Linked DNA regions of Homo sapiens. The protein of the gene in region 1 purifies or fractionates together with the protein of each later gene. This does not show direct contact. Each region holds a gene or a part of one and is shown in the gene's direction. Other genes may lie near its edges. The genes, in order: PARL, ENAH, CA10 and EEF2KMT.

Region 1 (7,882 bases):
AGTTTTATGGGTGCTGGCAGAAAATACAAGACTCCTGGGTCAGAAATGAAGGACAATTTATTACCCACAGCAATAGCATTAGCCAGACTATTAGAATTTTTGTGCTGGTTCCTTGAGTCCCAATTCTCATGGAGCAATGTGAAGAGGGCTGGACTGTACCTGCAGACTCAGTGGGTTGCATTAAGGAGAGGAATTCTGAACTGAGGAAGTAGAATCTTTTATTTATTTATTTTGAGACAGAGTCTTGCTTTGTTGCCCAGGCTGGAGTGCAACGGCATGATCTCAGCTCACTGCAGCCTCTGCCTCCATGGTTCCAGTGATTCTCCTGCCTCAACCTCCTGGGTAGCTGGGATTACAGGCGTGTACCATCACACCTGGCTAATTTTTGTATTTTTAGTAGAGACGGGGTTTCACCATGTTGGCCAGGCTGGTCTCGAACTCCTGACCTCAGGTGATCCACCCACCTAGGACTCCCAAAGTGCTAGAGCCACCGTGCCTGGCTGAATCAGAATCTTTTATTTATTTAATGATTATTATTTTTTTTGAGACAAAGTCTCGCTTTGTCCCCCAGGCTGGAGTGCAGTGGCACAGTCTTGGCTCACTGCAACTTCTGCCTCCTGGGTTCACCTGATTCTCTTGCCTCAGCCTCCTGAGTAGCTGGAACTACAGACGTGTGCCACCAAGCCTGGCTAATTTTTCTAATTTTAGTAGAGATGGGGTTTTACCATGTTGGCCAGGCTGGCGTTGAACTCCTTGCCTCAAGTGATCCACCCACCTCGGCCTCCCAAAATACTGGGATTACAGGCATGAGCCCCTATGCCCCGTCATGGCATTAGAATCTTTTATGATAGGCAGCACACAAGCCTGTGCTCTCTAGGGTGATATTATCTTTCTTCCAAGGTTATAAGCCAACTGCCCTTTGCTCTTGAGGAAAACATCTCTACCTTTCAAGATTGTTCGCTTGTTTACTATAAAAACTCACTATTAAACAGTAGATTCCCCAGGCTCAGTATTCTTTGGTTGAGATGCAAATCCACTGCATGTTCTTCATCCATTTGGCTCATGGCATTGCCACCATGGGACTTGGAGAACATGCCGTGGTAATATAAAGTGTTTTGTCTCTGACCCAGGAGTCTCCTGTCTTTTGCCAACATCCAATCTTTTAGCTTGCAAATAGGGTAAAATCAAATCCCAGACTTGACACCTCTGATATAACCAAAGTGAATTTATTTTTTAGAAACTGATGTGTATTTTCCATCAACGTTATTTCCATGTTGCTTAAGAGCCTGTGCAAGAACAGCTTAAGACCATTCAGTGGTTGTTTCTACCCATTCAGTGGCCTGAGCAGTGGGAGCTGCAGACCAGTCTTCTGTGGCAGGCTGAGCACTCCAGTCTTCAGTAGGGACCTGATGAATAGGCACAGAGGGCACCTGTACACCATCAGACCAGTCTCCAACCTCAGGCTGAATAGCGGTGAACTCAGGAGCTGGAGCAGTCCATTTGCCCTGAAATTCCTCCTTGGTCACAGTCTTTTCAGCAGCAACCTGCTCCTCTTTTCCAATCTCTTCAGGATCTCTGTAGAAGTAGAGATCAGGCATGACCTCCCATGGGTGTTCGAGGGAAATGGTGCCACACACGCGCAGAACTTCCAGGGCCAGCATCCACCAGCTCGGACCCACTGAGGGAGCTCCCTTGTTGTTGCATGTGATGGCAATGTCCACATAGCGCAGAGGAAAATCTGTGTGACATAGAGCAATGGTAGGTAGGTTAACATAAGATGTCTCTGTGAGAGGCTGGTGGTCAGCCCTGGGATCAGTAACCACTAGAAGCCGTGGCTCCCTGAAGGCTGCCTGGGTCTGGCTAGTGAAGGTTCCAGGAGTGAAGCGGCCAACAATTTGAGTGGCTCCAGTGGCAGCAGCAAACTTCAGCACAGCCCTCTGGCCAGTATTGCTAGAGGACATGACACTGACATCAACAGGGTTTTTAAAGGCAGCGATGGCACGAGCTGCCAGCAGAAACTTCTTGCTTCTCCCAGGTCCTCTTCAGATGTAGGATGTAGACGCCATCACTTTTCTTCTTACAGATGTGCTACTCCATTTGGAAGTCAAGGTTGGTACCACCTAAGTGGGTTCCTGCTGCAAGGAACTTAAGGACATCCTCCTCCTTCATTTGCAGGACATCAAGGGCTCTAGACATTGTGAAAGTTTCCCTTTAAGTTACAATGAGAATTGTAGGGACCAGCCCCACAGGGTCGGTGGGTCTCTCCCCACATGCAGAGACGAGAGAGCGTAGAAATAAAGACACAAGACAAAGAGATAAAAGAAAAGACAGCTGTGCCCGGGGGACCACTACCACCAAGACACGGAGACCGGTAGTGGCCCCAAATGCCAGGCTGCACTGATATTTATTGGATACAAGACAAAGGGGCAGGATAAGGAGAGTGAGCCATCTCCAATGATAGGTAAGGCCACGTGGGTCACGTGTCCACTGGACGGGGGCCCTTCCCTGCCTGGCAGCCGAGGCAGAGAGAGAGAGGAGACAAAGAGAGAAACAACTTACACCATTATGAGAGACTTTTAGTACTTTCACTAATTTGCTACTGCTATCTAGAAGGCAGAGCCAGGTGTACAGGATGGAACACGAAGGCAGACTAGGAGCGTGACCACTGAAGCACAGCATCACAGGGAGACGGTTAGGCCTCCGGATAACTGCGGGAAAGCCTGACTAATGTCAGGCCCTCCACAAGAGGTGGAGGAGTAGAGTCTTCTCTAAACTCCCCCAGGGACTACTAAGTAGCAGGTGTTTTTCCTTGACATGCTACCGCTAGACCACAGTCTGCTTGGCAACGGGCATCTTCCCAGACGCTGGCATTACCCCTAGACCAAGGAGCCCTCTGGTGGCCCTGTCTGGGCATAATAGAAGGCTCGCACTCTTGTCTTTTGGTCACTCCTCACTATGTCCCCTCAGCTCCTGCCTCTGTATGGCCCGGTTTTTCCTAGGTTATGATTATAGAGCGAGGATTATTATAATATTGGAATAAAGAATAATTGCTACAAACTGATGATTAATGATATTCATATATAATCACGTCTATGATCTAGATCTAGTATAACTCTTGTTGTTTTATATATTTTATTATACTGGAACAGCTCGTGCCCTTGGTCTCTTGCCTCGGCACCTGGATGGCTTGCCGCCCACAGAGAATCTAGAACAATGCCGTATGGGCCCCTCTCTGGGTTGTGTGGAAAAGGCGTGAATTTATTTTAGTTTTTCAAACAAGTCGTGCGCTGGGAGACATCACAAATGCTATTCTTTCTGAGGAACACTTCAATCCTCTTCTCTTGGTGACCTCTATCAGTTTCTCTGGGAAGCCTTCTCCCTGAGCCTCCCATGCCCCTTCCTTCAATTGGGCTATATCCCCCCTCTCTAGACTCCTACAGAGCCTTCTCCCCCAATACAATAGAATCTTTGTGAGGTCAGATATAGTGTCTTCTCAATTGTATCCCCAGGTTTAACATATCACCTGACACACTGTAGGTGCTTAATAAGAGCTTATGGAATGAATGAAGTGCTATTGCAGAGATAAGCATAAAGCGGTATGTGAGTACAAAGGAAGGGAATCTAAATTGGAGTGGAGGTCTGGGAAAGGCCTCCTGGAAGAGGTGACACTTGAGGCTGACCTGAAGGACAAGTCGGTTAGATGTTTCAAGTGGTGAGAACGGTAGCATGAATGCTCAGCAGTGGGAACGCGGATGGTGCCTTTGAGTAATGGCCAATGACTGTATGGCTGCAGCTAGGGTCGGGGGGAATGGAATGGCAGGGAATCAAGCTAACTGACAGGTAGTTGAGGGATGGATTATGAAAAAGTGAAAGCCCGCTTTTCATTTCAGGCTTGGATTTTGTGTTTATTTACTTATTTATTTATGAGAAAGGGTCTCACTCTGTTGCCCAGGCTGGCACGATATCGGCTCACTGCAACCTCCCGAGTTCAAGTGATTCTCCCACCTCAGCCTCTCGAGTAGCTGGGATTACAGGTTTGCGCCACCACGCCCAGCTAATTTTTGTATTTGTATTTGTAATTTTTTTGAGACGGATCTCGCTCTGTCACCTAGGCTGGAGTGCAGTGGTCCAATCTCGGCTCACTGCAACCTCCGCCTCCCAGGTTCAAGCAATACTCCTGCCTCAGCCAACTGAGTAGCTGGGATTACAGGCCCCTGCCACCATGCCCGGCTAATTTTTGTATTTTTAGTAGAGACGGGGTTTCACCATGTTGGCCGGGCTGGTATCGAACTCCTGACCTCAGGTGATCCGCCGGCCTCGGCCTCCCAAAGTGCTGGGATTAAAGGGGTGAGCCACCCCGCCCGATAGGCTTGGACTTTGTTAAAGGCATACAGAATAACACGAAGTGGTGAGATGCAGAAAAAAGTAGTAATTTAAGAAAACTTGGCTTGCCACGTTGGTTCCTCTAGGGACCAGCCCTGCAACTCCGGGCAAGTCCTATCCCCTCTGACCAGAGGCAAAGTGAAACAGTGATGACATCTACCTCTAGCAGTGCTGTGACGATTAAATGCGATCTTAGGCAAAGCGCCTGGTATGTGCCGTTACTCGAAAAAATGACAGTTGTCCCTCTTCGCTCTGGCCCCATCCTCCTCATCTGCAAATGCCGGGAGGCCGGGCCACTCTCGCAGGTCGCTCCCGGAGCCAGCTGAGCAGTGGGAGGGGAAGCGGTGGGACAGAAGGGCGCCAGCCAGTCGTCCGGGCACCGTGGCTGGTTCGGCTGCCGCTCAGCCGCGCGGGGGCGCTCTAGACTGCTCCTCGTGCTCTATGGTGTTGCCTTCGCCCCGGAAGTAGTTGCGCAGCTGGGGTTGGTAAGGTCGGGCCATGGTGGGGCAGAGGTTGGGAAGATGGCGTGGCGAGGCTGGGCGCAGAGAGGCTGGGGCTGCGGCCAGGCGTGGGGTGCGTCGGTGGGCGGCCGCAGCTGCGAGGAGCTCACTGCGGTCCTAACCCCGCCGCAGCTCCTCGGACGCAGGTAATAGCCGCCGCGCTCTGGTCTTCTCGCCTCTTGGTCCCTGAGCTCTGGCCGTGTATCCTCGGGGGCGGAGGCCGTCTGGGCCTCTTGTGCTGGCCCCAGCTCACCCCCTTCACCTTACCTGCCCCTTCTCTCTCCTCTCTCGCCTCCGTCCAGTCCTCGCTTCTCGCTCCCCTTGCCCAGCCCAGCCCCCCGCGAGCCTGCGCTTTCTCCTTTCCCATTGGGAAGGACGTGACTGGAAGGGGAACTAAGCTGAGGGTTCATTGCGTGCCACACTTCATAATCGCGAGTGGAAACTGTTGAGCCAGTTTCTGAAGTGAAGAAGTTAGTACAGCTGGCAGAATGGCGGTTTTTATTCTTTTTCCATCTAATTATAAAGGTTGTGTTCCATTACAACCAGTCGCCTTCTTTAGCTTGTGATCTAAGGGAGGACGAAGTCTGATGGAAGGTATCACTTTGTGTCTGGCAAAGTCGTAGGAGAGGCTTTATTGTTGAATTGAGACAGTGGAAGATTTCGTTTCCGGTTGATTTGGAAAGAAAACTGCCGAACCTTCCGAGTAGAAGTGTGAAGCGTATGGTTGATCAGTATTGCTGATTTTTGCATCACAGTAATTCATTTCTAATTTGAGAGAGAAGAGAGAAATTCCTCACCTGTTTAAGAATCTGATGTGCATTTGGCTTTGAAAATTTTCCTCCTCTTTTGTTCAAAACTTCATTCCTTCCAATTTCTGACTTGGTTAGATGGGTGCCTCGAATCCACCTGATTGCTGATAAGAAACATTGTTTATCAACACGTGGGATAGTCAGTGGTAAATAATCGAGGCTCTAATGTGGCGGAGCCATTGCCTAATCTCAAGGATCACCTGAAGAGTTTGTATGGATTTTATGTCCCAGGCCTCACCCCAGTCCTCCCAAATCACAATCAGGAGAGGGGTGGGTGGAGTGGAAGAACCTATATGTCCGACAAGCATTCCAGGTGAATTTTATCAGGGACTTGTGAAAACTTTACATACATTGTATCTTCATACACTAACATAGATCTGTCAGGCACTAATCTTAAACTCCTGGGGAGGTGGAAAATGAGGACAGATGGAGGTGGTAATCCCATTTGAGATTGCATGGTTTAAGGGGGAAAGAAAAGATTAATACTGGCCGGGCGTGGTGGCTCACACGCCTGTAATCCTAGCACTTTGGGAGGCTGAGGCAGGTGGATCACCTGAAGTTAGGAGTTCAAGACCAGCCTGGCCAACATTGCAAAACCCCGTCTCTACTAAAAATACAAGAAATTAGCGGGGCATGGTGGCGGGCGCCTGTAATCCCAGCTACTCGGGAGCCTGAGGCAGGAGAATGGCTTGAACCTGGGAGGCGGAGGTTGCAGTGAGCCGAGATCGTGCCATTGCACTTCATCTTGAGCAACAGAGTGAGACTCCATGTAAAATAAATAAATACTGTACGTGTATTAGGAAGCAACAGGAAGTGTGTTAAACATTTAAGATTTATGTACACATCACCGTATTGGTTTTAGGAAGGGGAAGCAAAAGAAAACTAATGAGCCTCTAGTAAAAATTGAGTATAAAGACCATTTGAAACAGTGAACCAGAAACACATGAAATGTTGAAGATTAGTATTTAATGTCTGAAAAGCTTGCCATTTGTATAGAAAGTTTGAAAATGACATTTTCGTGGTTGCATAAAAAATATACATGAGAATGTAGGCCTGAAATAGAGCATTTGCCTCTGGTAATAAGTTCTTAAAGTTAATAGTATCAGTTTACCTTATATATAACCTTTATTAGCTATATGTTGACTTCTTATGGCTTTGAAATTAGCGTGCAGAAGAATGACCCAATCCGTGTCATTTGATGTATTAATAATAGGCCTGAAGTGGGACCAGGAATTTGCATTTTACAAGCACTCTAGGTGGTGATACTAGGGTCTGAAAACTACTGCAGGCCCAAGGCGGCCCACCAGCCAAGAATGGTTTACATTTTTAAAGGATTGTAAAACAAAAATAGTAATATGTGACAGATTTCAGTAGTCCACAAAGACCGAAATATCTTCTATCTGGCCTTTTACACAAAAGGGGAAAAAAATCTTATTTGGGCTCCTTGTAAACTTTACTGTTACCAAGGTTTGAGGCTTGAAAGTGGAAACCTGTTTAATTTGCCAGTTATATGAAACTATCCAAGGGAAGAAAATAGTTGAATTGTAACACTTAACATTTTATATTTTTAAAAAACTTGCCGTTTGTATGGAAAGTTTATATTGAGATGATAGTCTCTCTCTTTCTCTCTCTCTCTCTCTCTATATATATGTGTGTGTATATGTGCATATATATGTATATATGTGTGTGTATATATGTGCATATATGTATATATGTGTGTGTATATATGTGTATATATGTGTGTATATATGTGTGTGTATATATATGTGTGTGTGTATATATATATATAAATATATATATATATATATATATAAATATATATATATATATATATATTTTTTTTTTTTTTTTTTTAGAGACATTGTCTTGCTCTGTTTCCCAGGCTGGAGTGCAGTGGCACGATCTCAGCTCACTGCAACTTCCGCCTCCCGGGTTCAAGCGATTCTCCTGCCTCAGCCTCCCGAGTAGCTGGGATTACAGGCATGCACCACCATGATGCCTAGCTAAGTTTTGTGTTTTTTGTAGAGACGGGGTTTTGCTGTGTTGGCCAGGCTGGTCTCGAACTCCTGGTCTCAAGTGATCTGCCTGCCTCTGCCTCCCAGTGTTGGGATTACAGGCTTGAGTCACCATGCCTAGCCTCAAAATATCTTTAAGTAAGATACTTGACATATTAGTCAATCGTATATATTA
Region 2 (7,024 bases), on another chromosome or scaffold:
TTTGGGTGGTGGAGGAACTGTGTCTGATATTTTTTAAATGCTTAAAAAATAATATTGGTGATTTGCACTATAATTGTTTCTGAAAAAAATTTATATTCTCAGAAACTTTCAAATTATTGTAGAATATATATGCCTAGCTTAAAAGAAAAATTAAAGTAGTCCGTCAGGATTTTTCATGGTTCAGAATTAAGGCACTCTTTCTTTGAAAAAAGTCCTCAGACGATTCTATTAATGACTGAAGAAAACAGTTGGAGAGAGAACTCTAGGAAGAGGAGCCATGTGCATTTCCAGTATGTGAATTGGCAGCGATAATTCTGAGGAAAAGCAAAGTTTATAAATTTGGAAACTCCTCCTAGAAAGCTACACAAATGTCTTGCTTTAGAGGTCAAAACATGAGAGTCAAATTTATAAACCATCCAATTTAGGTGGGAATTATTCATGCCACACAAGATTCGGAAGCCAGAGATTTTCTGCTTGAATCACTATTTTGGGAAATCCGTTTAGATGGGCATCTTTTCAGCAAGCAAGCTAAAAATTAGCTTAAAGTGTTCAACACTTTCTTTTCTTACCTTCAGAACAAGAAAATAGTAAGAATCTCCTGCAGCTATATGAATTGCCTGCTTGAATCATCTGTCTGTGAACTTAGAAATATTCTCCAGCATTGTGTCCTTTTCCTATATCAGTAGACACTCCTTATCTTTTATAGCCTGAAAACCCTGGAATATGATGACATGTGGAACAAACTTCTTAAGTCAATACAACCTAGCTGTAAATGCTGTTACCAATAATTCTTTCAGATTCACCTCACCCATGCCTGGCCTTCTGCTTGTGACTTAAGCTTACTTTTTGTGTGTTAAAAGCATTGTATTGCTTAGAGAAACAGCCATTAACTTGGTGGTTAAAAAAAAACCCAACTACTAAGAACTTGAATGAGAAATGAAATGTAGTCATAGAATACTATTTGGTTCAGCTGTGAGCAGTATTTACATTATCATGTTAATAATGTAAGCTGTGAATATTGATTTTCCATATTGGGAGAAGCATGAGTGTAGTGAGGGAGTTGTAGAAGGCATCTTCCTGTTAGAAAGTAGATAGCAAAAGCTAAAATGTAAGAAACAGCTGCAAGAGTAGGAAACGGGTGGGAGGGTTGAGGCAGTGAACTACTGATTTTTGTTATAAACTTTAAAAACTATATATTTATGTTGTTTTGGTAAAATAGAAGAAGTAACAAATGCTCAAAGATCTAAAAACTTAGATCTTTTCATCATAGATTTCTTGGGACAGCTACTGTGCTCTTAAATGTTTCTCTTTAGCTTCTGTATTTAAATTTGTTCTAATTAGAATAATATGGGTGTATCTTTTGCCCTTTGGGCCCAACAGATTGCTTAGAGCATTATATGTAAAATGGCCCATATTTTTTGATGTAGGTTGAATTATCTGAAATTTAATACAGGCTCCAGCTGAGTTTATTAACTGCAGGTTACTGGAGAAACAACAACAACCAACCCTGACTTTCCTCTGTTTATTATTAAAAACATTCTTTTGAATACATCTAATTTCTTCCCCTCATCCCTGCAGATAAAGTTATTGTTATCCCTCAAAAACTTTGGCAGCTAGTGATTTATCAAATAGCATAATGAAGTCCGTACTAGATCCTGAAAATCTGATTTTATTAGTAGTCAGTATCTCAAACAACTACTCATAAATAAATAACTACTCATAAATAAAGTCAGTTTCTTGTGTTTTTCTCTTGCAGTCATTGTTAAGTGTGATGGTATGTCCAGGAGAGGGTGTGTGTTTTATGAGAGCAGTGGGGTTGATGTATTTGTCAAATGGGCCTTTTCTTTTGTTGTATAGCCAGCTTAGGAAACATGAAGGAGAGAGATTTTTGGAAAGATCTTACTGGTGTGTTGGTACCGCTGGAAGGAACAAAGGGATAGCATGCATGTGCTGTCATTTAGCTTTGTCTCTAACTAGACCCACCCAGTTTATTAGCCAGTCCAGAAAGTCCCAATTTGAAATTTCCAAATAATAACTATTGTTGGGCCGGGCGCGGTGGCTCACACCTGTAATCCCAGCACTTTGGGAGGCCAAGGCGGGTGGATCATGAGGTCAGGAGATCGAGACCATCCTGGCTAACACTGTGAAACCCCGTCTCTACTAAAAATACAAAAAATTAGCCGGGCATGGTGGCGGGCACCTGTAGTCCCAGCTACTCGGGAGGCTGAGGCAAGAGAATGGTGTGAACCTGGGAGGTGGAGCTTGCAGTGAGCCAAGATTGCATGGCTGTACTCCAGCCTGGGCGACAGAGCAAGACTCTGTCTCGGGGAAGAAAAAACAAAACAAAACAAAAAAACTATCGTTATAGCCCACATTGAACGTTCTTATGTTTCAAGTACTTCTTAAAGAGCTTTTAGGTATTACTTCATTTAATCTTCCCCACAGTGCTATGAAATACGTATGTGTAAGATAAAGATACTTTTTTTTTTTTTTTTTTGGAGACAGGGTCTTACTCTGTCACCCAGGCTGGGGTACAGGGGCATAGTCTCAGCTCACAGCCACCTCCATTCCCCGGGTTCAAGTGATCCTCCTGCCTCAGCCTCCCAAGTAGCTGGGATTACAGGCGCACACCACCACGCCCAGCTAATTTTTGTAATTTTAGTAGAGACAGGGTTCCACCATGTTGGCCAAGCTAGTCTCAAACTCCTGACCTCGGCCTCCCAAAGTGCTGGGATTACAGGCATGAGCCACCGTGCCTGGCAAAGATAACTTTTTTTTTAGGGAAGGTTAATTGACACAACTTTTCCTAAAGACAATTTGGAACCATGTATCAAAAATCTTAAATTCATACCTTTTCACCTAGCAAAATTTATGTCCTTATTGATCCTATAGAAACAGAAAAAGATTCAAAGATGAAGACAAATGTTATTGCAGTATTGCCAATAGTGTTAGGATAACTTAATATCCTACTGTAGGAGACTGCTTAGACTGTGGACAGCAAAATAATCGAATATTATTATGCACTCATGGAAAATAAAGATGCTGAACTAAGTGCCTTAGGATAACTCTGTGTGTGTGTGCGCGCGCGTGCGTGTGTCCATCCAGAGTTGTACACACAGGCAGGTTCTCATCCCAGATATCCTCAGTTTTACTAACTTATGTCTCCCTCCCTCCCTCCCTCCCTCCCTCCCTCCCTCCCTCCCTCCCTCCCTCCCTTCCTCCCTTCCTTCCCTTCTTTTTCTTCCTTCCCCGCTTCCTCCTTTCTTTTCTTTCATTGTTTTTGGAGACAAGGTGTCATTCTGTTGCCTGGGCTGATGTGTGATGATGCAATCTTATCTTACTGTAGCCTCAGACTCCTAGGCCCAAGCAATCCTTCTCCCTCAGCCTCCCAAGTAGCTGGGAATACAGGTGCATGGCACCATGCCTGGCTGATTTTAAAATTTTTTGTAGAGATGGGTCTTGCTTTGTTGTGCAGGCCCATCTTGAACTCTTGGGTTCAGACAATCCTCCCACTCAGCCTCCCAAAGTGCTAGGATTACAGCTGAGCCACTGCTCCCAGACCAACTTTCACAATATATTAAGTGAGAGAAAGGAAAGCAGATTTCACAGTAGCGGGAAATGGTTACATTTTATTTTGTTTTTAAAGTTTATATGTGTATTTTTACACAAGGGGAAGTCTAGAGGTATATAGGGGTGCGTGTGTGCGCGTATGTGTATATATAGATGTGTGTCTTTATATACATATGTTGATGATAGTTGCCTCTGGATATGAGATTTCAATCATTTAAAGTTTATTTCTTCTTTCTTGACTCTTTTTCATTCAGTAAACTTTTTTTTTTTTTTTGAGGTGGAGTCTTGCTCTGTCACCCAGGCTGGAGTGCAGTGGCACGATCTCGGCTCACTGCAGCCTCTGCCTCCCAGGTTCAAGCGATTCTCCTGCCTCAGCCTCCCAAGTAGCTGGGATTATAGGCGCACGCTACCATGCCCGGCTAATTTTTTATATTTTTGGTAGAGATGGGGTTTCACCATGTTGGCCAGGCCAGTCTCGAACTCCTGACCTCAAGTGATGCACCTGCCTCGGCCTCCCAAAGTGCTGGGATTACAGGTGTGAGTCACTACACCTGGCCCATTCAGTAAATATTTATTGAGCTATTGCTGTGGCCAGTCATTGTATTTTCTGAAATATTATTTGTACAATTAAATTTGATATTAAGGATATTACAATTACAAATGTTTTCACTAAATAATTAAAATAATGACTTGGTTATTAAAGTGGTATGTTATTTGGAAAATTCATTTACTTGCAACACTACTCATGAAAAGTACAGAATAAAATGAAATGTTAGTGCAATGTGCTGAAGCATTCAGCCAATATGATGCTAATAGGAGAAATGATTTTCATTTGTATGAAACAGTCTCTATCCAAGGTAGCCTTCATGTGGGAGGAGAGATGTTTGCATGCTCTACATTGCTTTTATTTGACTCAGAAATAGTTTACATAGGTGAAAAGAATCGCTTTTTCATGATGAGTAGCCATAGATGCATGTTTTTACTTTTTTTTTTTTTTTTCCAGACAACTACAAGAACAGCAACGGCAAAAGGAGCTGGAGCGGGAAAGGCTGGAGCGAGAAAGAATGGAAAGAGAAAGGTTGGAGAGAGAGAGGTTAGAAAGGGAAAGGCTGGAGAGGGAGCGACTGGAACAAGAACAGCTGGAGAGAGAGAGACAAGAACGGGAACGGCAGGAACGCCTGGAGCGGCAGGAACGCCTGGAGCGGCAGGAACGCCTGGAGCGGCAGGAACGCCTGGATCGGGAGAGGCAAGAAAGACAAGAACGAGAGAGGCTGGAGAGACTGGAACGGGAGAGGCAAGAAAGGGAGCGACAAGAGCAGTTAGAAAGGGAACAGCTGGAATGGGAGAGAGAGCGCAGAATATCAAGTGCTGGTAAGAAGTTTACAAACTCTTCTGTGTTCTTGTATCTGAGCTTGGATGATGTCTCTTGTGCAGTCATGTGTTAAAATATTTCACATTTGAGATGTTTGGGATTAAGCCATACAATTTGAAATTATGAATAAATATGCAGCAATTACTACTTTAACATTTTCTTTTTATTTCTCTCTGTATTGCTTTTATTGCTTGGAGACTTAAAGAAAGCTCTTGGAAATTTTTATTCTGCCATTCTAATTCTTCTAACACCCTATAAAATGGCTATAAAGTGTAAGTGTGTTTTTATGGGAAATTTTTTATACTGGATGAACTTCAAATATATTTCCCTCATGAGATCACTTAAATTGTCTCAAATACTATAGTACTGTAGTACCATTCAGCAAGAAATTTGCTTGATTGCATTCTAAAGATTTTGGAGGAAGAATTATTTTAGAGAAATATTCTCTAAGACTAGTTATTTAAATATGCTTTCTAGTATTATGAAAAATTAGTGAAAATTATGGAATCTGGAATTTACTGAAAGACATAAGGGTTAATATATGGCTGAAAGTTTGAGATATTTTAACGTTTATTAAAATTAACATTCATTATAGGATTTAAGAATATTCCTTATGGCCTAATTAAAAAGTCTTAATGTGGTTTGATTAAACAGTGGTTGGTTGGTTGGTTTATTAAGTTAATTTATGTATTTTTAGCTACCTAATTATTTTCTGGAGTTATGGCCAACAAAACAAAACTTTTCCACAAGTTAGCATTGAATAGGAGCATTGAACCCTTCATATTAAATGTTTTGCCAGCTTTACTAGTTTTGCTATTTGTTGTTTTTAAAAAAACAACTAAATTTATTCTTCTGTTTATGGTCCTATTCATGTGATTTTAATGTCCTTTTTCTTGTAGACTAAATAAAAATTAAGACTAATACTAGCTTTTTCTTGTAAAAGAAATTAGTCAATTAAATTTATTAATCCACTTATTAGATAAAAGGAAACTTATTTCATCCCCTTCTGAATCTCAAAATGTATTTACAAGTTAAAATATTCTTGGGTGAAAATAGTTATTTGCGTTTGTGCCTAATTCTCTGATACTAACTGTAGTCTACATTTATACATTGTGTCTGAATGCTGGTTTTGTGGCTTCACTAGCTCCCTTTTTCTCTCTCCTTTTTTATCCTGTCTTTTGCTGCTGCTTTCCACCTTCTGTCCAGCTCCATCTTCAGACAGCTCCCTGTATAACGCTCCACTTCCTGAGTATTCCAGTTGCCAGCCTCCTTCAGCACCTCCTCCATCATACGCTAAAGTCATCTCAGCTCCAGTGTCAGATGCCACTCCTGATTATGCTGTAGTGACTGCTTTGCCACCTACTTCCACACCCCCTACACCACCACTGCGACACTCAGCGACACGTTTTGCAACATCTTTAGGTTCAGCCTTCCACCCTGTTCTTCCCCATTACGCTACAGTTCCTCGTCCTCTGAACAAAAACTCTCGACCTTCTTCTCCTGTGAACACACCCTCTTCTCAGCCTCCAGCTACGAAGCCCTGTGCCTGGTCTACTTCCAATTTTTCGCCCCTCCCTCCATCTCCTCCAATAATGATTAGCAGCCCCCCAGGCAAAGCTACTGGTCCAAGGCCTGTCCTCCCTGTTTGTGTTTCTTCTCCTGTGCCCCAAATGCCTCCATCACCGACAGCACCCAATGGGCTGGTTGACTCTGTAACATATCCAGTGTCTCCACCGCCTACCTCAGGGCCAGCAGCTCCTCCGCCGCCGCCTCCACTGCCTTCCCTCGCATCACTCTCACACTGTGGATCTCAAGCTTCTCCTCCTCCAAGCACCCCTATTGCCTCAACTCCCTCATCCAAGCCTAGTGTTCTCCCTTCTCCCTCTGCAGCTGCCCCTGCCTCTGTTGAGACTCCTCTAAACTCTGTGCTGGGAGACTCTTCTGCTTCTGAGCCAGGCTTGCAGGCAGCCTCTCAGCCGGCCGAGACTCCATCCCAACAGGGTAAGGCTTTCATTATTGCTACTAACAGCTAATCACTTGAAAATGTTATATAGCAGTGACTTTAATTGCCTGAATGGATGG
Region 3 (7,024 bases), on another chromosome or scaffold:
GTACATTAGGTTAATGACACAGTGTTGAACTAAACAAAGATGAAGTCAAGTTGCTAAGCTCTTGTCTGGCATTGATTAGGGGGCTCATAAAATAAGTCACTCCCTCAGTTTAGTCTTGACAACCCAAAGAAAAACTTTGTGTACACTGAATGACACTTTCCTTGAAAAACTTCCAAATAGGATAAGGTTGATTTTCACATCGTTCTTGCCAGATAGGAAAAGCACAGCATCAACTCCAGGGAATTGCTAAATATTTGTGCTACCCCAGGCATATTGCAAAGATGATGAGACCTGAACAATGATGTTAGCATTAAAGTGTTAATGATGACTGCAGTCAACAAAGAAACTGCAGGATGAGTGGGCCTCAAACAAGAAAATCTGATGACAAGAGACCATGCAGGTAAGACTTAGAGAAGTGGACCAAGATTCAGACCAGGAAAATACCATAGCAACCCCCAAGGATCTCCATGGGTGGGAACATTTGGTGGTTCTCTTCCATTTTACCACGTTTGTACATAGCTCTGTTTATTTATGTTGTTTCCCCAACCTGCTACTCAGCCTAATTCTATAATTTCTTTTTGTTTCTAGTTCCTTCTTTCTGGGGATTGGTGAACTCAGCTTGGAATCTTTGCTCTGTGGGGAAACGGCAGTCGCCAGTCAACATAGAGACCAGTCACATGATCTTCGACCCCTTTCTGACACCTCTTCGCATCAACACGGGGGGCAGGAAGGTAAGCCACCATATTGCTTCCATGGTAAAGTTGAAGATGGGGCCATCTTGATTCTGAAAGCTAATCCTCAAGGCTTCAGTCTCTGTGATGAGTTTGTCCTCCCACCTAGGAATACCACAGACTTCAGACCTGCCGCCATTAGATAGAAATATGTCTAAATTGTGCTTTTTCTCCCTAACTAGTCAAACTTTTGTGCTTCTGATTACTCTGTACCTCCTGGAGGTTGCCTGAAGTCTTATCAGACAACCTTGGTACCCCCATAAAGGACAGAAAGCATAGTGGCCACCCCTGCCTATCATGCTGGGAAAATCTTTCCTCTAAGAAACTGCTTTACTAGGCCTTCTTTTAACCTCAGTGAAGTGAGAAAACCAATTAACAAAAATAAAATCAGACGTTCATCATCTTGGGAGGAAAAAAACAGACAAAAATCACCTTAGATGATTTATAAGAAAATCAATAATTAATCTTCCTAGGGGCATCTTGCTTGCTAAGAATCCTAGCTCCTGCACAGAAATGCTGAGCTGGGCTTTGTGATTCTCACACCTAAATCCCTCCTTCACTCTCCTCCCCCCATAACGAGCTCCTCTTTAATTTGTGGAAGGGCACAAGTGCCCATTGGGTCTTCTCATCACTGGAATCTTAGCACTTCTCTTGCTGGTTCATGTCTACTTGGCTATCTTTTACTGTTGAGTAGGTTGTTAAAGGTAAAAAAAAAATGCACATGCAGAAAATTGTGTTCAAAGGTAATTTAGCTATTGTTAAGAGAAATGGAAAATAATTTGTGTGCAAAAAATTGAGGTTAAAATTATTGACAACTTTTGATAATACCAGCGGCTGATTCTTCAGGGTTTGGGTCATTGGGCTCTGTTCTCTCTTCCTTTGTGCAGTCTGTTCACCATAAATACCATGAAGTTTGTAAGTTAACTTTTTCCCCTTCTGATGTATTGAAATATATTTTCTTGTACCATGTAACTGTCACAGATACACACACCCCTAATGACTCATCAAAAAGCTGTAAGTGACTTTGACTCAGGTCACAAAGCAGGTTTTAAAAGACATTGCATGTGGTCGACACCATTTAGTTATGCAGTATTTGTGTACTGTTTTAAATATGACTTGAGAAGCATTTTTGTGGAAAGGTCATATATAGGTCATTTAGTTTATTGCTCTGATTCCATATAAAACGATGCTATCCTAATTATTGTTCCATTTATAGTTTTATTTTTATAAATTCTGCAAGGAGCTTGTCATGGCTTCTAAGTACATTTCTCTTTAAAAAGGTGAATTATTTATTTAAAGTCGTGAACACGTGTGAGTTCGCTGGTCAGTATTTAAGAAGGAAAAGTTGTAGTTATGATTAAATATTCAGTCATTCTTTCTTTCTTGGAGAGGGTGATGTAGGGGATAATTGCATTCTAGGCAAAAGGAAAAGCAGGGGGTGGAAAAGCCCAAGATACAGAATGGGGTTTGGTGCCTGAGTTCCAGAATGCAGCTGAAAGGTAGCCAGCAAGGCTGAACACAGGGAGCGAAGAGAGGCTTGCAAGATGGTAGGCTAGAGAGGACAGCAGAGGGCAGGTCCTGAGGCAGTGTTCGGGAGCTGAATCCTTCGCCTACGAGTTATGGCAAGCATTTGAAGGGGTTTTAGATAAAGTACAGATTGGGATTGAGATGGAAAATGTGTCAAACTAACACAAACAATGGATATATAATTTTTACTTTCCATCAGAATGTCTTAAAGGAAAAATGTTGATGTGAAAGAAAAAAATGTCAACACAGCTTCTCCCTAAAATTTATTGGGAAAGAAGAGATTGGGAGATAGTCTAGTGTTAAAAATCACTCACATGTTATGACTTGGGTTTTTTTTTGTTTTAGAGATATTTTTTGAACAGATGATTTTGTATCTTTCCAATTCAGGAAAGTATACCTGATCCAAACCAATTTTCAAATGCATTGGAGTTTGGAATCTTGGCAACATTTACTTTTCATGATGTAAATATTTATATCTGGCACAATTTTTGTTGTCAGTGGTTTGAAGAGCTGAGAACTGTCTGATGGTTCCTTTTGCATTTGTGAAAGGTAGAAAATAAAATATAGTTGGTCGTGATAAACTAATTGGTAATGAAATGCCTTAATTTGCTAGGCAATAGGTAAATCATGTTTGTATCACATTTTGAAGGTGATGTTTAATGAGTTGGAAACTTGTTTTGAAAGTGAGAATTCAAATCACTGCTCTGATTTTTGTTTTCCCTTAAAGAAATACCCAACTTAATCGATTTGAAAATCACCCTGTAAGACTGGGAAGTTTTGTTGAATTTGGGCAAGATGTCACATTTTGAAGTCTGAGCCAAGCTGGGTGTCAGTACGTGAAATGCAGCCTAGTAACTACATGTTTTGTGTCGCATTTTTATCCACAAGCATTATTCTTTCTGGTGTTCAAGTGTATCTTATGCACAAAACTGTGATGCAGCTCTCTGGAAGCCCCTGACTTGCGTTACTATGTTTATTTTAACATATTTGACCTGACATTGGGCTCAAATGAAGGAACAAGGGCTTTCCTTACCATAGTTTAAGGCTAAAATTCAACCTCAGTACAAGAATAGCAAGGAATAATAGTTATTCCTTCTCATCCTATGCACTGTGCCTTGAGTGTAATAGAAAATATTCATTTTTATTTAAAAATGAGATTTATTTCACCTTTTAGCCTCATGTGACAGGTTGCAGTCAAAATGCAGTTCAAACTGTGTTTCATGCAAAAAGTTATTTAAAATATTGTATATAATTACCTTCAGGCTATCTACATAAGACATAATGTATATGAAACATACATGAATTTTTTGTTTCGACTTGGATCCCATCCCCAATAAATCTCATTAGATATATGCAAGTATCCAAAATTAGTAAAATTTGAAGCACTTATGATCCCAAACATTTTGCATAATGAATATTAAATCTGTAATTGTATTTTTACAAATGGCACGCCCTTAAGGCTGGGTTGTATGTAGATATAAGACTCCTACCTTGGAACCAATCTCCACCCTTTGACCCTGTTAAATTTAACATCCAATTGCTACATTGTTTGGAGCTAATTAATCCATTCTAGTTAAAGCTACTAAATTAACTTAATCAAAAAGAGGAGGTTGGGGAGATAATTCTTTGTGGTTTCAGGTTGCTTAAAGTTTCCATATATGAAGAAGTTTGATTATGATATAAATGATGTTTTACACTGAGTTAAGCCTCACTGACTGTTTTAAAGATTGAGACCCTTGTTAGCCATTGAACTTGTAAAATTTCACAAAAATGTTCACCTTTCATGTCTTTTTGCTCAGACCAAAGTGAGTGTACGCAGTGTGTTTGTGTTTTAATTTTAGTGTATAGTCACATAAGTGAGATTCTTGGTAATTTGAAAATGAAATACAGGATGAGAAGGTTACCGCAGAGTAAAATATGGATAACTTCAATCAATTATTTTGGAATATAGATATTTGCTTTGAGGATTTGATATAGGTGGGTATTGAAAGGTCGTGAGTTTAGCTTTCAGGAAGGAAATATGGCACATAGAAACCTATCTGCTGATCTAAAATATCTAAAAGGAGAAAAAACATATTAAAACTGAGACTAAAACCCACTTGCCGATTCTATCATTTTAACCAAAACTCAGTTCCGTCATCTTTTCTCATCTTTTAACTCATTTAATAAAATAGACACCTCAGTAGTTAAGGACATGACAATTGCTTATCATATGTTAAGTATAAAAAGTAGGATCTGTCATATGTTAGGTATAAAAGGTAGGATCTAAACATAATTATCATATATTAAGTATAAAAGGTAGGATCATATGTTAAGTATAAGAAGTAGGATCTAAGTATAAAAGGTAGTTGATGACACGACAAATCCTTATCATATGTTAAGTATAGAAGGTAGGATCTAAAAAAGAGACTGGGATGAAGGATAATACTGTTTTATTTTTTCTTTTCTAAAGTTTCTAGATTTGCTAAAACAGACTTGCATTAATTTGGTAATCTGAAAAATACGTATGTTCTAACCTCTCTTTCCATTTCATTTGAAAATATATTTGGAGTTGATAAATGTGGTAGACAGAATAATGTCCCCTTCCAAAAATGTCCACATCTTAATCCACAGGACTTCTAAATGTGTCACTTTACATAGCAGAAGGTATCTTGAAGATATGATTAAATATAGGATTTTAAAACTGGAAGGTTACCCTGGACTATCCAGGCAAACCCCTTGTAACCATAGAGTCCTTAAAAGGAAAAGACAGAAGCAGGAGAGTCCGAATCAGAACAGAGACGTGAGGATGGAAGCAGAGGTCGGAGTGACACAGGGCCATGAGCCAAGGAGGCCTCTGGAAGCTGCAAAGCGCAAAGAAACAGATTCTTCCTTGGAGCTTCCAGAAGGAATACAGCCCTACTGACACTTTAATTTTAGCCCAGCAAAACTGATTTCAGATTTCTAACTCCCCAAATATAAGATAATAAATTTGAGTTCACTTGAGCCACTAATTATGGGGTAATTTGTTGCAGTGCCAAAAGGAATCTAAAATAATAGATGTGAACATAAAGATTATACTGGTTTACTAACCACAAATCAACAAATTATTTTTAAAACTTTTTGGCATTTTTGTAAAATTATAGTCAGAAACAGCCTTTTTCCTGTACAACAGGGAAACAATAAAAATGAATCTAATCACAGATTCATAGCAGCTTAGATTTGTGAGAGCACCTTTGGAAGCCAGCTCCTGACACTTCCAGTCCAATGCTGTGGGGTCTAAGTTCCTCTCCACTCTCAGTATCATCTTGTCATTTCTAGGAGTTCTTAACTACCGATAGTTCTTCATATGGGTCCTGTGTTTGGTCTCTGCTGCAGAATATTTGACAGCCATTTTTTCTTTAACCATTTTAAAGTGGATGGTTCAGTGACATTGAGTACATTCAGGCTATTGTGCAGTCATCACAACTATGCATTTTTGTAACTTTTTTATCATCCCAACTTGAAACTCTGTACCCAGTAAACAAGAACTCCCCATTTTCCATCCCCCTCAGCCCCTGGTAACCTCTGTCCTACGTTCTGTTTCTATGAATTTGCCTGCTCTAGGTACCTCATATAAGTAGAATTACATAATATTTATCTTTTTTATGTCTGGCTTATTTCACTGAGCATAATGTTTTCAAGGTCCATCCATGTTGGAGCATGTATCAAAATTTAATTCATTTTTAAGGCTGAATAATACTCCATTGTATGTATATACCACATTTTGTTTGTCTGTTCTTCTGTCGATAGACATTTGGGTTGCATCCAGCTTTTGATTATTGTGAATAAGGCTGCAATGAAAATTGGTATACAATGAACTGTTTGAGTCCCTGCTTCCAGTTTTTCTGGGTGTATGGCAAGGAGTGGAATTACTGGGGCATATCTATGTTTAACTTTTTGAGGTTTGTCACACTTTTTTACACAGTGGCTATACTATTTTACATTCTCATCAGCAACACACAAGGATTCCAATCTTTCCATATCCTCACAGAAACTTGTTGTTTTTTTTTTTTTGTTATTTATTTTGAAATAGCCATCCTAATGGTTGTGAAGTGATCTCTCACTGTGATTTTGATTTACATTTCCCTAATGAATTGGCAGACTTTCACAGACATCCAGTACAAGTTTTTGGAATACAACCTGTTCCTGATACAGAGGGTAGAAGATCTTGAAACCTCTGAGAAGGAGATAGGTTGTAGAAATAATTGACCTTAGCCTAATGGCACAGTCAGGAATATAAGAAGTAAAAAGAAGCAGGGTGCAGTGGCTTGCACCTGCAATCCCAGCTCCCCAGAAGGCTTAAAGCAAGAGGATCACTTGAAGCCAGGAGTTCAAGACCAGCCTGAGCAACATAATAAGACCCCATCTTTAAAAAGAGAGACAGAGAAAGAGAGAGAAGCAAAAAAGAGAAGAAGCTGGCCATCAGCAGACTGAAGACCTACATTGGTTATCTCAAAGAAGCTGATTTTTCCCCATATCTTCAGGTTTTTTGTTTGAAATTTTGCCCAGCAAAGGCTAAAACTACTGTTGTCGCCAATTTCCTTTTGATTTCTGGATACCTGGGGATTATATCAGGGAGAGTCTCAGCAAGAGACATGGAACATGTTGAGTCATGAGGATCCCTCATAGAGGGACCGTTTATAACCACCCCAGGTCTGGAAGGGGTGAGGAGAGGGAGTGAGGACCAGAACCTGGAGACCAAATGAACCAACCATGGAGAGGAACACCTGACCTTCAGTGAGGGA
Region 4 (7,024 bases), on another chromosome or scaffold:
CAGATATCCTCCACCCCCACCCACCCAGCCCATCCTAGGAGCCCCGGTGAAGAATTCCTGTGCTAGAGGTGAACCAAGATTATCCATGTGGAAAAGATACAGCCACAGCAGGGAAAACTTTCGGGGCAATACCAGGGCTTCGAGCATGGAGATACCTGAAGTTATCTCGCACCCTGCTCTGAGTTTCACCCTGAGCCTCACTCTCGTAGGTGGTGAAGCATGAAATGTAGGGAGAGCTGCTTTAAAACCCAGCACAAGGCTGGGTGCACTGGCTCACACCTGTAATCCCAGGACTTTGGGAGGCTGAGGTGGACAGATCACCTAAGGTCAGGAGTTCCAGACCAGCCTAGCCAACATGGCAAAAACCCATCTCTACTAAAAATACAAAAATTAGCTGGGCGTGGTGGTACATGCCTATAGTCCCAGCTACTCAGGAGGCTGAGGCAGGAGAATCGCTTGAACCCAGGAGGCAGAGGCTGCAGTGAGCCAAGATCGGGCCACTGCACTCCAGCCTGGGCAACAGGGCGAGACTCTGTGTCAGAATAAATGAAAAACCAGCACCAGCCTGAAGAGCCTGTGTATTGCGTGGGGTACTTTGCTGCCCTTGGGCAGAATCTGCATCCCTCCCAGCCAGCAGGCACTGTGGACCGTCTCCTCCCTCTCCCTCCAGGCTCCTGTTTTCCCGCCGTCCCCACTCCTGCTGCACCAGTCCCTCTGCCCTCCTTTCCAAGTGCCAGGCTGTGGCCACCTCAGAGCTTGCACCAGCTGTTCCCACTGCCTAGAACTTGCTCATCCTGCATTTGGCTTCTCTGGGCTTTAGCTGGAGTGTCACCCGGAGCGTCCCGTCCCCTCCATCCTGTCCCCAGGGACACACACTCCAAGAGAGCAGTTGCCGAGTGGGCCTTCCCGCCTCTTCCATAGAGCCAGACCGTTGGCGACTGTCCTTACTGCAAACCCTGGTTCACACTGGCTCCCCTGGGAGGGAGGCGGTTTGGGCCCACATGCCCTGTGTTCCTGCTCAGAATGGGCGTTAGAAATGCTGCCATAGCCTGTGCCACTGCAGTGGAAGCATTTTTAGGAAACAGCTTATATCTTAAGACAAACTTCAGATGCATGGGGCCAAAACGCTGTGTCCATCTACATCTTTGCTGAGGGATCGGGTAGCCTGGAGTTTGCCCTCTGCTGTGTTGGCTTGAAGCTCATAGGAGACTTAAGACGGGCTCTCGAGCAACCAACGTTCTGTCCTTTGCCGTAGACTGTGAAGCATCCTGTGTGTGTGAAGCACCCGCCGTCCGTCAAATATGCCCGGTGCTTTCTCTCAGAACTCATCAAAAAGGTCAGTTATGGGCAGTGTCCGCCCAGTAGCCGGACAGCATAGCCACCTGCGTGCTGGAGCCCCCGTCCTTCCCAGGCCCTGGGCCTGCTTTGCAAACCCCAGCATGGCAGGGGCCTCCCCAGGCAACTGGCTGCAGCCACATGTGACCCATGGGAGACAGTGCAGGGCGGGAAGAAGGGGAGGCCAGCATCTCTCCCTCACTCTGCCTCCTGGGGTTTCCACGGCAGCTGCTCCTCTGGGGCCCCAGCTCCTAGCATATGGATTCTCATTCCTACCAGGCTGGCCCAGCCCACAGCACTGGAACCCTCACCCGCACCCTCTGTCCTGCCCGCTGAAGGGTTTGGAGTTTCCTGCTCTTGTCCGTCTCTGGGTTGCCCCACAGGCCCCTGTTGGAAGATTTAGCTCTTGCCATACCTTCGGAACTAGTTCCTCTGGTGAATTCTCTGCATTAATCCTGCTGGAATGAGCTCTTTCCTGACTGATAAAGGATGAATTTTATTTTTTACTTATTTATTTATTTTTTTGAGACAGAGTCTCACTGTGTTGCCCAGGCTGGATTACCGTGACACAATCTCGGCTCCCTGAAACCTCTGCCTCCTGGGTTCAAGCAACTGTCATGCCAGCCTCCTAAGAAGCTGGGACTACAGGCACACGCCACCATGCCTGGCTAATTTTTTATTTTTAATAGAGACAGAGTTTCACCATGTTGGCCAGGCTGGTCTCGAACTCCTGACCTCAGGTGATCCGCCTGCCTCGGCCTCCCAAAGTGCTGGGATTACAGGCATGAGCCACCGCACCTGGCCTAGGATGGATTTTAAAGATGCGCCCGAACATGCAGGGTTTGACATGAGGATGTCGAGAGGCCTCCTCAGTAGGCAGTAGCAGACCTGCTGAGTGAAAGAGCCACACTTTTAGCAAATAAACAATCCCCTGCTTCTCCAATACCTGCTTTCTCCCTAGTCCTCCCCAGAAGCATGCATCTGTGGTCACCAGCAGGTCTGCCCTGTGCCACCAGGAGAGGGCAGCAGTCACCCAGTGTACTCTGCTGCTGCCCTGTGAATCATAGGACGGGGCCAGCTGTGGAGAAGCGGCCTGCTGACAGCCACAGCCTGCAGCATGGGCCGCCCTCACACTTCTGCCTGGGCTCACTTAAAAGCACCTTTTGTTTTCCTCCTCTCTGTGTTTGATCCAAACACGGCTCTCTATCATGGTCACCTGGCAACTCTCACGGAATCCTTGTCTCCTGCCCTAGACTACACCTAACCCTACCCTCCCAACACCTCTGGTTCAAGGCCCTCCCATCCAGGTTTCCCTACCAAGTGAATTTTTTTTTTTAGAGACAAGGTCTCTGTTGCCCAGGCTGTCCTCGAACTCCTGGGCTCAAGCAGTCCTCCCATGTCAGCCTCTAGAGTAGCTGGGACTATTCGGCACACACCACCAAGCCCAACGAAGTGAATATTTTATATGGCAGCTGGCCGGTATTATACCATTCCATCGCAAATCTCCCCTCCAAACTTGGTGAAAATCATCTGGCCATTTTTACAGATTAGAACGAAAGCAAACAAGCTCTCACTCTGTCTGCCCCCAGCACGAGGCTGTCCACACAGAGCCTTTGGACGAGCTGTATGAAGCGCTGGCGGAGACCCTGATGGCCAAGGAGTCCACCCAGGGCCACCGGAGCTATTTGCTGGTATGAGAAGGGCACCCTCCTCCCCCTCACAGCCCAGATACCCTTCCTGCACAGACAAAGTGAAAACGTGGGTGTGGGTTCAAATCCTGACTCACCCATTCTACAGTCTTAGACATGAGGTCCGTCAACCTTCTTTAGCCTCAGTTTCCCTGTCTGTAAATCAGGCACTTCAACAACAACAGCATGTCTCGTGGAGTTGTTGGGCACTTATCCAATAGGTGACACACACTACCTGCTTCACAAGGACCTGGTGCCCAGTCCTCAAAGAATACTTGACAGGGCTGGGCGTGGTGGCTCACGCCTGTAATCCCAGCGCTTTGGGAGGCCGAAGTGGTTGCATCTGAGGTCAGGAGTTCGAGACCAACCTGGCCAATATGGTGAAACCCTGTCTCTACTAAAAATACAAAAATCAGGCCGGGCGTGGTGGCTCATGCCTGTAATCCCAGCATTTTGGGAGGCTGAGGCGGGGGGATCACCTGAGGTCAGGAGTTTGAGACCAGCCTGGCCAACATGGTGAAACTCCATCTTTACTAAAAATACAAAAATTAGCGGGGTGTGGTAGTGGGCACCTGTAATCCCAGCTACTAGGGAGGCTGAGGCAGGAGAATCTCTTCAACCCAGGAGGTGGAGGTTGTAGTGAGCCAAGATCATGCTATTGCACTCCAGCCTGGGCAACGAGAGCAAATCTCTGTCTCAAAAAAAAGTACAAAAAGTAGCCGGACATGGTGGCACACGCCTGTATTCGCAGCTACCTGGGCGGCTGAGGCAGGAGAATTGCTTGAACCCAGGAGGCAGAGGTTGCAGTGAGCCAAGATCGTGCCACTGACTCCAGCCTGGGTGACAGAGCTCAAAAAAAAATAAGATAAAACATAGATACAGAAAACCACAAAGGAAAAACAGCATATTGAATCATCACAAGGCAGCCACCCCTTCATAGCCACACCTGTCCCCTGGCCACCACTGACATGTGTTCCATCGCCAGAATTCCGTTGTCTCAGGAAGGTTCGATGAATGGAATCCTGTGTGGCCTGAGATGAGTGTCTTTCACACCGCGTGACACCCTTGAGGCCCGTGAAAGCTGTTGGCATGCCAACAGTTAGCTGCTTCTCATTGCTGAGTGGCGATTGGTCCTGTCATGGTTTATTCAGCCATGTGGTGGGGCTACTTGTCTTCTAAGCCACTTGCCTTCTGATCGCTGGACTGACTCTCTCGCCTTCTCTTGGTGCAGCCCTCGGGAGGCTCGGTCACACTCTCCGAGAGCACGGCCATCATCTCCTACGGTACCACAGGCCTGGTCACATGGGACGCCGCCCTCTACCTTGCAGAATGGGCCATCGAGAACCCGGCAGTCTTCACTAACAGGTGACCTCGGGGCGCAGGGCAGGGCACCGAGGCAGGCTTACCCTGGTGCAGTCGCAGACACGGTCCCCTTTCCTCCCGCCAGGACTGTCCTAGAGCTTGGCAGTGGTGCTGGCCTCACAGGCCTGGCCATCTGCAAGATGTGCCGCCCCCGGGCATACATCTTCAGCGACTGTCACAGCCGGGTCCTTGAGCAGCTCCGAGGGAATGTCCTTCTCAATGGCCTCTCATTAGAGGCAGACATCACTGCCAAGTTAGACAGCCCCAGGGTGACAGTGGCCCAGCTGGACTGGGACGTCGCGACGGTCCATCAGCTCTCTGCCTTCCAGCCAGATGTTGTCATTGCAGCAGGTAATGCCCAGCCCCGGGCACCCTGTGCAGGTGGTGTCCTTGCAGCTCTACCCAGCTCTTGGCTCTGGGAAAAGGGAACAATGGACGCTGTCGGGCATGGACATGATGGGGCTTCCAGAAGAGTTACTCTGGGCCTCCAGGGTGACATCACAGGACAGGGGTGCCTCTTAAGGTGACCTTCAACCCACAGCCCTCTTTTTGGAGACAGGCATACTCCCGTTCCAGTCGTTACCACATGGCTCTGTCCCAGAGCCATGCCCTGTGTCCTTCAGAGACCACAGGAGGAAAACAACCACTTCTGGGACGAAGACAGGGCCCTTGAGAGAAGGTGGTGTTTGGCTGGGCCACCGAAAACCCCTCACCCCTGCCAGCACACTCAGTCCCCTCTCTGGTGGAACAGAGCTCTGCCTGTGGTCCTAGGTCCCAGCCCTGAAACCCACAGGTCCAGCGGTGGCCAGGGACACAAGCCCACCCCTGCAAGCCAGCAGACAAATCAGCAGATGCCTGAAACATGAAGTTCATGGCAGGGTCAGGCTTTGTGTCATTCAAAGCCCTCTAGATAGGCCAAGAACCAGAGCTGGTTTTTTAAGGAACACCAGTGAGTCTGGAGATTTTTTTCTTTTGCTTCGGTCTTTTGCAGCTTTCTCTACTAAGGGTTCTCCTTTTTCACCCAAGTAATTGCCTTTCCATCTAATGGCCCAAATGGTCAAATGGCATCTACTAGTCTCATATGACCGCTGCCTCTCTGGCCTCGCCCTGCTGCTGACGTCAGCATGACCTGGACCTGTCCACTGGTCCCTTTCAGTAACCTGAAGCTTTCACCATAGATGTGCTGTATTGCCCAGAAGCCATCATGTCGCTGGTCGGGGTCCTGCGGAGGCTGGCTGCCTGCCGGGAGCACCAGCGGGCTCCTGAGGTCTACGTGGCCTTTACCGTCCGCAACCCAGAGACGTGCCAGCTGTTCACCACCGAGCTAGGTGAGCCTCCACGCCCACCCGGGCCTGCATGGTCCCTGAGCTGTCCCTGCAGGACGCCAGTGGAAGTGAAAGAACTGGGTGCCGGGGAAAAGCTAGGTTGCCCCACACTCCCACACCATGGGGGGAACTCAGGCAGAGGCCAGTGAGCAGGGTGGGCTTGGGGCGTGGGGGGCTTGCGGCAGGAGGAGGGCAGCTCAGCACAGGGAGGGAGGGTCTGAGCCCAGCAGCCCTACTGTGTGCTTCAGAGCAGGGTTCCCTAAGCCCTTGGGCCTCGGTTTCCTCATCTATAAAATGGAGGTGGCGGGAGGGGCAGTCGGGGTCAGGGCTGGACACAGCTGTGGCCTGCAGGACGCTGGAGCACAGGATGTACAGGCGGATCCACCACGCCACTGTCCTGAGCACCCAGTCGGTGGAAGACGAGCAGGGTGACTGTAGAGAAGGGGAACTGGCCCCATAGTGGGCCAGCAACTGTCCTCAGACCTGACATTTGTCAGCCCCCAGCAACTGTGAGGGTGTGCTGTCACTGTCCCATCTCACCAACAAAGACACTAGGACACACGGAGGCCAAGAGACCCCCGAGCTCCCGCAGACTGCACCCCAGCCACCTGGCTCTCACGCCTCCACACTACACCCAAGCCCCCCAGTGCCACCAGCCTTTGCCCCAGCTCCCCCTGAGCACAGCCCCTCCTGGCAGCCATGTGCACAGATGCACATGCAGCAGCCTCTGCCTGCACACAGAGACACAGACAACCCAGTGCCTGTCCACGTGGGGCAGCCCGTTAACTACAGAGCCAACAAACAAGCCAGCACACGAAGACGTACTGGGTTCCACGACAGAGTCCCCCCACAACCTCGCACAGGAGGCTGGCCGGGCGCAGGGCTCAGGCCTGTCATCCCAGCACTTTAGGAGGCTAAGGCAAGAGGACTACTTGACCCCAGGTGTTCAAGACCAACCTGGGCCACATAGTGGGACCCCATCTTCACAAAACATACAGAAGCTAGCCAGATGTGGTTGCACACGCCTGTAGTCCCAGCTACTCAGGAGGCTGAGGTGGGAGGATGGCTTGAGCCCAGGAGATGGAGGCTGCAGTGAGCCCTGATCTCACCACTGCACTCCAGCCTGGGCAACAGAGCAAGACCCTGTCTCAAAAAAGCAAAGAAATAAAAAATAAAAAAAAAAAAAGGAAGTCTTTCTTCAGATACTTACGTGAAAAAAAACCTGCAATATATTTTAAGTGAAAAAAACAGTGCCAAGCAGCACACATAGTATAAGCCCCCACCCACCTTTTTTTTTTTTTTTTTTTTTGAGAC

The links.
Region 2: the proteins of PARL (region 1) and ENAH purify together in Homo sapiens (affinity purification with mass spectrometry; 3 studies listed by BioGRID and IntAct, with this or other methods). This does not show direct contact.
Region 3: the proteins of PARL (region 1) and CA10 purify together in Homo sapiens (affinity purification with mass spectrometry; 2 studies listed by BioGRID and IntAct, with this or other methods). This does not show direct contact.
Region 4: the proteins of PARL (region 1) and EEF2KMT purify together in Homo sapiens (affinity purification with mass spectrometry; 3 studies listed by BioGRID and IntAct, with this or other methods). This does not show direct contact.

Annotation. Positions count from the first base shown.
Region 1 is NC_000003.12:183,881,869-183,889,750, reverse strand, and holds the start of PARL (presenilin-associated rhomboid-like protein, mitochondrial isoform 1 precursor), read left to right. Parts: upstream 1-4,870; 5' UTR 4,871-4,904; coding exon 4,905-5,029; intron 5,030-7,882. UniProt on the Homo sapiens protein: Required for the control of apoptosis during postnatal growth. Essential for proteolytic processing of an antiapoptotic form of OPA1 which prevents the release of mitochondrial cytochrome c in response to intrinsic apoptotic signals.
Region 2 is NC_000001.11:225,517,115-225,524,138, reverse strand, and holds part of ENAH (protein enabled homolog), read left to right. Parts: intron 1-4,573; coding exon 4,574-4,941; intron 4,942-6,148; coding exon of another isoform or gene 6,149-6,832; coding exon 6,833-6,943; intron 6,944-7,024. UniProt on the Homo sapiens protein: Ena/VASP proteins are actin-associated proteins involved in a range of processes dependent on cytoskeleton remodeling and cell polarity such as axon guidance and lamellipodial and filopodial dynamics in migrating cells.
Region 3 is NC_000017.11:51,924,697-51,931,720, reverse strand, and holds part of CA10 (carbonic anhydrase-related protein 10 precursor), read left to right. Parts: intron 1-588; coding exon 589-731; intron 732-7,024. UniProt on the Homo sapiens protein: Does not have a catalytic activity.
Region 4 is NC_000016.10:5,087,796-5,094,819, reverse strand, and holds part of EEF2KMT (protein-lysine N-methyltransferase EEF2KMT), read left to right. Parts: intron 1-1,255; coding exon 1,256-1,336; intron 1,337-2,924; coding exon 2,925-3,026; intron 3,027-4,254; coding exon 4,255-4,388; intron 4,389-4,470; coding exon 4,471-4,736; intron 4,737-5,563; coding exon 5,564-5,713; intron 5,714-7,024. UniProt on the Homo sapiens protein: Catalyzes the trimethylation of eukaryotic elongation factor 2 (EEF2) on 'Lys-525'.